Linked DNA regions of Homo sapiens. The protein of the gene in region 2 purifies or fractionates together with the protein of the main gene of each other region. This does not show direct contact. Each region holds a gene or a part of one and is shown on either strand. Other genes may lie near its edges.

Evidence for each region.
Region 1: the proteins of RIPK4 (region 2) and COX20 purify together in Homo sapiens (affinity purification with mass spectrometry, with the first as the bait; one large-scale study listed by BioGRID). This does not show direct contact.

The regions. Positions count from the first base shown.
Region 1 is NC_000001.11:244,842,108-244,845,829, forward strand, and holds the end of COX20 (cytochrome c oxidase assembly protein COX20, mitochondrial), read left to right. Parts: intron 1-87; coding exon 88-151; intron 152-933; coding exon 934-1,069; 3' UTR 1,070-2,950; downstream 2,951-3,722. UniProt on the Homo sapiens protein: Essential for the assembly of the mitochondrial respiratory chain complex IV (CIV), also known as cytochrome c oxidase.
Region 2 is NC_000021.9:41,756,793-41,760,836, reverse strand, and holds part of RIPK4 (receptor-interacting serine/threonine-protein kinase 4), read left to right. Parts: intron 1-4,020; coding exon 4,021-4,044.

The DNA of each region.
Region 1 (3,722 bases), on a different chromosome or scaffold from region 2:
CTACATAATGAACTATTTTTTTTTCTAGGTGGAGTAATGTATATAACGTAATTATATTCTAATTAATTGTTATGCTTATTTTTACAGGTAGAATTAGAAGATCATGTGATGTTGGAGTAGGAGGGTTTATCTTGGTGACTTTGGGATGCTGGTATGTTTGCTAAGTATTCAAGAACATCCATGATTATAGTAGGTTATCTAATTCAAAAAGCACATGCTCTTTTCAGAGCAGTCTCCCATTGGGAGATCCTCACCCTCAATGAAGAATCTTGATTTTTCAGGACATTTTCATGGAAATCTTAAAATGCTTGAACAGATAAATGCATATTAGACATCCCATTAAAAAGAAAGCTGTGGTTTTTACACTTCACTTAGGAAAGCCTCAACCATTTCCCTTACCCTAATACTTATTTCATCCCTGCTTATTCATATCTGAAAATGCTACTTTAAGAATGTGTTTACAACTACTGATGAGTGAATATAAAATATGGATGAACCTCAAATATTTGCCAGACCTAAGAGTATGATATGTATGTACTATATGGTTCCATTTATACATGAATTTCTACAGTGAGCTATTTAAGGTGGTAGAAATCATTTTATGTAGACATAGCATTATTATCCCGTTAAAAACGAGAGCAAATACTTGTTTCTTATAATAGCCAATGCTATCAGAAGACTTAAAAACTAATGGATTTTATCACTTTACAAATTGTTATGTAGACATCCTTTTTTTCCTAATAAAAAAAGAATGTGTTGATAGGTATTCTGACACCAAAACTGCCCAAAAATAGCACTATAAATTAGAACATATTTTTCAGTCTCAGGGTAGTAGTCATCTGTATTTAAGTTTTGTGTGATTTAGAGAAATTTCATAAATTAATTTCTGTAGGACTTTATATTAACAATTTATTCATATTCTTTTCTTCTAAGGTTTCATTGTAGGTATAATTATGCAAAGCAAAGAATCCAGGAAAGAATTGCCAGAGAAGAAATTAAAAAGAAGATATTATATGAAGGTACCCACCTCGATCCTGAAAGAAAACACAACGGCAGCAGCAGCAATTGAACAATCTTGAGCATAGAAGTCAATGTAAACGAAGTTAAGATCAACCACATAAAACATTTCATGTGCAATAAGCTCTCAATCAAGTAAATAAAGTTTAAGTTGTAGTCATTTTTTTCCCACACTTGTGTGGAATGAAAACTTGCCAGTTTATTCTGGCCCTGTGTCTACTGCCAGGATAGCATTCTTACGTGTTACATATAGTGGACTTGTCATCCTTAAAATGTGAACAGAATTTATTGGCAGTGTGGCAAAGAATTATAAAACATAGTGTTTAATGTACTTGGAGTTTCCTTGTAGTAGTAAGTATAGAGTTTGATGATAAGTAAACGTCCCTTAACAAAAACCTCAACCTTATTACTATCCCATTAAAAAACAGCAAATACTTACTGAGTTCTTGTAAGAGCTAATGTCATTGTAAGATTTAAAACTAAGGGCTTTTATCACTTTGCAAATTATTTTTTAAATGCATTCATCATTTGACAGTGTTCTCTCATTTCTTAAAATGCGAGTCATCTTCCAAAAGAGTTGTTTTTAACTGCCCTAAACATTTTTGGGGAAGTATGCAGGGTTTAAATTTTTAAGTATAATTAGTTCTGAATTAAAATATGCACATGGAACTTGTCTGGCAGACTGATGCAATAGTAAAACAACTGCAGAATTACTATTAATGTAAACAATCCATTTGAAAGTCAATCAGCTGCTCCCATTAAAATATTATTTAAAATACAATACCCACAGCATCTAACTAAATCCTCAGGATTTATTCTCCGGGAGAAATTATCCCTTTCTAGGAAAATGAAGTTATTTCTGGTTTTAATTCATACAATACTTTAAGAAAATCTGTTAAATATAACAAAACACAAGCTAGATGCTTAAGAAATGCTTAAAGAAATATTGGGGCGAAGGTAACAGCAGTCAACAGGATTGTGGCCATTACTGGTCCTATTATTTTGATGTACCATGGAAGGCACAGAAATCGAGCAAGGAAGAAAATATTAGTTATTTTGATCTACATCTTTTTCTAAAGAAAAGTGGAGCTTGCCTCCAGTTCAATTCACAAGAGCATTTTCCCTCCCATGCCCACCTTTTCTTGTGGCTGTCGCTAGGAAGGATGCAGAGGCTGTGTGGTTTACCAAATGCCTTAACTTAGCAGTGAATGACAACTGTCAAACACATGTTGAGGGAAAATTTTTACTGATTCACAAAAAGGAAGACAGTTTGCCCACTCTTAGTGGCACAAATCAAAGCTGCATGCACTACATTATCCAAATTAGTCGTAACCAAATAGTTAAAAAATTCTGCTGGGCACGGTGGCTCATACCTGTAATCCCAGCACTTTGGGAGGCCGAGGCAGTTGGATCACCTGAGGTTAGGAGTTTGAGACCAGCCTGGCCAACAGGGTGAAACCCTGTCTCGTCTAAAAATACAAAAATTAGCCGGGCGTGGTGGTGCATGCCTGTAGTCCCAGGTACTCAGGAGGCTGAGGCAGGAGAATCACTTGAACCCGAGGTGGGGCAGGCGGAGGTTGCAGTAAGCCAAGATCGCGCCATTGCACTCTAGCCTAGGTGACAGAGTGAGACTCCATCTCAAAAAAAAAAAAAAATTCCATAGGATGTTCAACCATGTTTTCAGAGGCCGCACTGCATGAATGCGGGAAAATGTTGATGATCACTAATCAATAATCTGATATTTAACAAAATATGGACAGGCCACTTATGCTCAGTTTTACCTTAGTTATTCCTTGGTATCCACAGGCCCAAGTCCCTTTAAATAAAATACCCTCATATTTCCATATAATCTACATACATTCTCCCATATACTTTAAATCATCTCTAGATTACTTATAATGTCTAATACAAAATAAATGCTATGTAAATGTAATTATTATACTGTGTATTTTTGTTGTTGTTCTTCATTGTTATTTTTTGTCTTTTTACCTCCAGTATTTTCAACCCACAGTTGGTTGAATCCAAGGATGCAGAACTGGAGGACATGGAGGGCTGACGTGTAACATACATAACATATAAAACAGGTCCCTTCCAGCGCTAGCACACTGCAATTACATCTTACCCTGAATAAGAGAGAAACTCTGTTTTGGCTGGTAAAATTTCCAATGTCTTCACCAATAACAAAGCTCATTTTCACAGAAGTTTGCATAAACTGGAAACCTGGATAAAAACAAAGTTGTAACATATTTGGTTGGATTATTTTTTAAATGTTTCATGTATTTACATGATCACTAATAATTTTTATTCTTATGCTATTAAGATTTTACAAGTGTATTAATAAATTACCAAAGTCTGTAACACCCACCCTCAATAAGGAGAGACTGGTAGAACGAAAGTCTCTCCTATCAATGTCTACCCTACCATCCAACTTCACGTCCAAACTATTTAGTTTTTTGCCAAACCTTCAATGCACTATGACCTTTTTTTTTTCTCTCTTGAGATGGAGTTTCACTCTCGTCGCCCAGGCTGGAGTACAATGGCGTGATCTCGGCTCACTGTAACCTCCACCTCCCAGGTTCAAGCGATTCTCCTGCCTCAGCCCCCCAAGTAGCTGGGATTGCAGGTGCGTGCCACCACGTCTGGCTAATTTTTGTATTTTTAGTAGAGAGGGTTTCACCATGTTGGCCAGGCTGGTCTCGAACTCC
Region 2 (4,044 bases):
ACTTGTTCCCAAGGCCAGTGGGATTCTTTGCTCCTTGAGTGTATTCAGACACACTCGACCTGCCCACCCCCCACACCCCCCAGCTGCTCCTCCTGGGGTGCTCCCGCGTCCACCGTAGAGAGCTGCCTAGTGACCCCTGGTGCAGCTCCAGAGAGGTCCTGCAAGCTTCTCCCCTCCACATGCAGTCAATGGACCCATCCTGCAGATTCTTCCAACAGAGTGTGTGTGCTCTGCTGGCTTCCCCTCTCTGCTTTGCCAAGCCCAAGGGGATCCACAGCGACTGCTCCGCTCTGCTGGCCTCCCGGGTGCCCCTGGACTCTGCGCAGGTCTCAGCCTTCCCGATTCTCTCAGGGGCCCTTTCCTATGCTGACTTCTGACTTTGGATCTCTCTTGATTCTCCATAGCTCCCTGGACCTTCCTTTCAAGAGGCTTAGATTTTTCAACCACACTTCTCTTTTGGGGGTAGTTCGCCATCTTCTTCCTTAGAGGGTACACGTAAACACCATGAAGGCGGGAAAGGGACCTCTTGTCCTTAGTTCTGACATATGGTGGATTCAAGCGAGCACTTGCCAATACACAGAACTGCTTAAAATATAGGTCAGGTGAGTGCTGGGAATACTGAAGTGGTGATTCTGGACAGTAGTAGTTTATTGGCTGAAAATGCACTCACTTGATTTACATCGGGGTTATTCAACTTGGCACCGTTGGCATTTGGGGCTGAGTAATTCTTAGCCTTGGGGCTGTCTTATGCATTGTAGGATGTTCAGTAGCATCCTTTAGTTGTGACAGCCAGAATCTCTCCAGACATTGCCCAGTGTTTCTTGGGGGGTGAAGTTGCCTCTAATTGAGAACCAGTGGGCTATGTCCTGAGACGCAGAGCCCTAGCTGCAGGGCTTGCATTGTTGGGGGGCAGACAGGCTGAGATCTCCGAGCCTTTGGTACCTGTCCGATGTATGGGAATTTCCACAGCAAGAGCTAAACAGTAGGATCCAGGGGTTCCTGCTGGCCTTTCCTGCAGGGAAAGTGTTTTCACTATGGTAAGGGAAGCCTAGGAGGGGCTGAACTCTCGCAGGGGCGGTCAGATCATTAAGAAATGGATGCGTTCTGTTGGCACTGTTTTGGATTCACCAGCAGGCGAGGAAATGGGAGCCACTGAGTGATTTCCCAGCACCTGCTCCCGGGTTTGTCACTGGGAGGAGCAGGCCTGTGTCCGAGCTCCAGAAGAGCCCCCTGCTGTGGCAGCGGACACTGGGTTATAGGCAGGGACTTGGGCTGGACGCTGGATTCTGGGGGAATTGTCTGGAGGCCACCCCAGCCAGCTGCCTTGCGTGGCCTGTGTGTGGACATGGAGCTGCTGGGTTTCCTGCTATAGGAGGTCGGATCTCTCCTAGTGTGGTTCTGAACATTTCCTTTAGGGAGCTTATTATATTATTAGAAAGCAGATTGGCTGGGCACGGTGACTCATGCCTGTAATCCTAGCACTTTGGGAGCTGAGGCAGGCAAATCACTTGAGCCTAGGAGTTCAAGACCACCCTGGCAAACAGCAAAATCCCATCTTTACTAAAAATACAAAAAATTAGCTGAGTGTGGCACACCTGTAATCCCAGCTACCCTGGAGGCTGAGGCATGAGACTCACTTGAACCTGGGAGGTAGAGGTTGCAGTGAGCTAGGATCATGCCACTGCACTCCAGCCTGGGCAACAGAGCGAGACTCTGTTTCAAAAAAGAAAAACAAACAAAAAAACAGATTTTCCAGCCCCAACCTGGAATGCATTCTCAAGGAGTGAGGCCTGGGAACCAGCATTCCAGCCAGCTTCCTGGGTGCTTTCTACCATGTCTGTGTTTGGGGCTGCTGATCTCGATCCTGCATGGCCAGCGTGCGTCCGTGGGATTCAGCCTCTTACTCTGAACGCATTCTGAGACTTTTGACCCATGATGCCAATACAGACCATTGCACTGGGATTCTAGTCTGTGAAAACACAGGCTGCACCAGGGAAGTGACCTTAGACCAGAGGTTGGTCAGCTTTCTCCACGAAGGCCTAGAGAGGCAACATTTTAGGCTTTGCAGGCCGCAGGGCCTCTGTTGCAAGGACTCCTCTCCCCTTTGAAGTGCAAAAGCAGCCACAGCCAGTGTTTAAATGAATGAGTGAGACTTTCTTCCAGTAAAAGTTTATTTATACAAACAAGGTGGTGGCACGCTGTGGGCAACCATTTGGCAGTTTCTCAAAATGTGACACATAGACTGTGACCAAGCAATTCTGCTCCTAGGTATGTATCGAAAAGAATTGAAAGCCACGACTCCAGGCGTTTGTCCCCCAATGTGTGCAGATGTGCAGCATTATCCACGAGAGCCAAAAGGTGGAAATGGCCTGCACCCACGAACAGATGAACAAAACGCAGTACATTCGTGCAGCAGAATATTATTCAGCCATGAAAAGGAAGTTTTGATATATGTTACAGTGTGAATAGACCCTGAAAACATGCTTAATGAAATAAGCCAGACACAGAAGGGCAAATTTTATATGCTTATGCTTATATGAATTTGCCTAGAATGTAGAAAAGAGGTTACTGAGGATGGGGATGAGGGAAGGAGTTATTGGTTAATGGGTGCAGAATTTTTGTTGAGGATGATGGAAAAGTTTTGGGTGTAGATAGTGGTGATGGTTGTACCACATTGTGAATGTGGGTAATGTCAGGGAATTGTACACCTGTGAATGGCTAAAATAATAAATACTATGTTATGTCTATTTGACTACATTTTCTCTCTCTCTCTCTCTCTCTCTCTCTCTCTCTCTATATATATATATATATATATTTTTTTTTTTTTTTTTTTTTTTTGTTATGGAGTCTCTCTGTGTCGCCCAGGCTGGAGTGCAATGGCGCGATCTCGGCTCACTGTAACCTCCGCCTCCCAGGTTCAAGTGATTCTCCTGTTTCAGCCTCCTGAGTAGCTGGGATTACAGGCAGGCGCCACCACGCCCAGCTAATTTTTGTATTTTTCGTAGAGACAGGGTTTCACCATGTTGATCAGGCTGGTCTCGAACTCCTGACCTTGTGATCTGCCTGTTTCGGCCTCCCAAAGTGCTGGGATTACAGGCATGAGCCATCACACCCGGCCTATATTTTTTATTTTAAAAAATGGCTGGTTGGATTTGGCTGTTGGCAACCCCATGCTTTGGACCTATGCTGTTTCATTAGTTTGAGTGTGAGGTTGGATTCAGGAATAACTGGGCCAACTCAGGTATTGGGCTTAAACGGAGAAGGTGAGTTGGGTTCCTTGAACATAACTAGTTACAACTTTTTTTTTTTTTTTTTGAGATGGAGTTTTACTTTGTTGCCCAGGCTGGAGTGCAGTGGCATGATTTCAGCTCACTGCAACCTCTGCCTCCCTGGTTCAAGTGATTTTCCTGCCTCAGCCTCCTGAGTAGCTGGGATTATAAGCATCTGCCACCATGCCCGGCTAATTTTTGTATTTTTAGTAGAGACGGGGGTTCCACTATGTTGGCCAGGCTGGTCTCGAACTCCTGACCTCAGGTGATCCATCCGCCTTGGCCTGTCAAAGTGCTGGGATTACAGGCATGAGCCACCGTGCCCGGCCTAGTTGCCTAGTTACAACCTTGAGTGGAACGTCAACTTCTCTTCCCTCCTCCCAGGAGAAGGGATTATCGGCCTGCACCTGCAGTCTCTGAGACCCCCAAGCCTTGGCTCATGGCTGCCTGTGGAATTATTCACACACGTGGACCCCCCACATGTGTTATCAGTGCTACCTGTAAAACGATTAGAATTTCCCTCCTCCTCACTTGTGATAACCCTGTGATGCATAGGTACATTTCAGCAGCCTCAGGACTGAGACTCTGGAAAGCCCTGCATTCGTGATGTGACATTGAAGTGTGCCCCATGTGTGTGCACTTGAGGCATTTGCTCAGCCCTCTGGAGCTGGTCGTCTTCTGGCCAGGGTGCTGTTCCATGTTTGTGGCTGAGTGACCATTGCGTATTCTTCATGCCTTTGAACTTTTTCAGGGAGCGCATGGAGCTTTTGGAAGA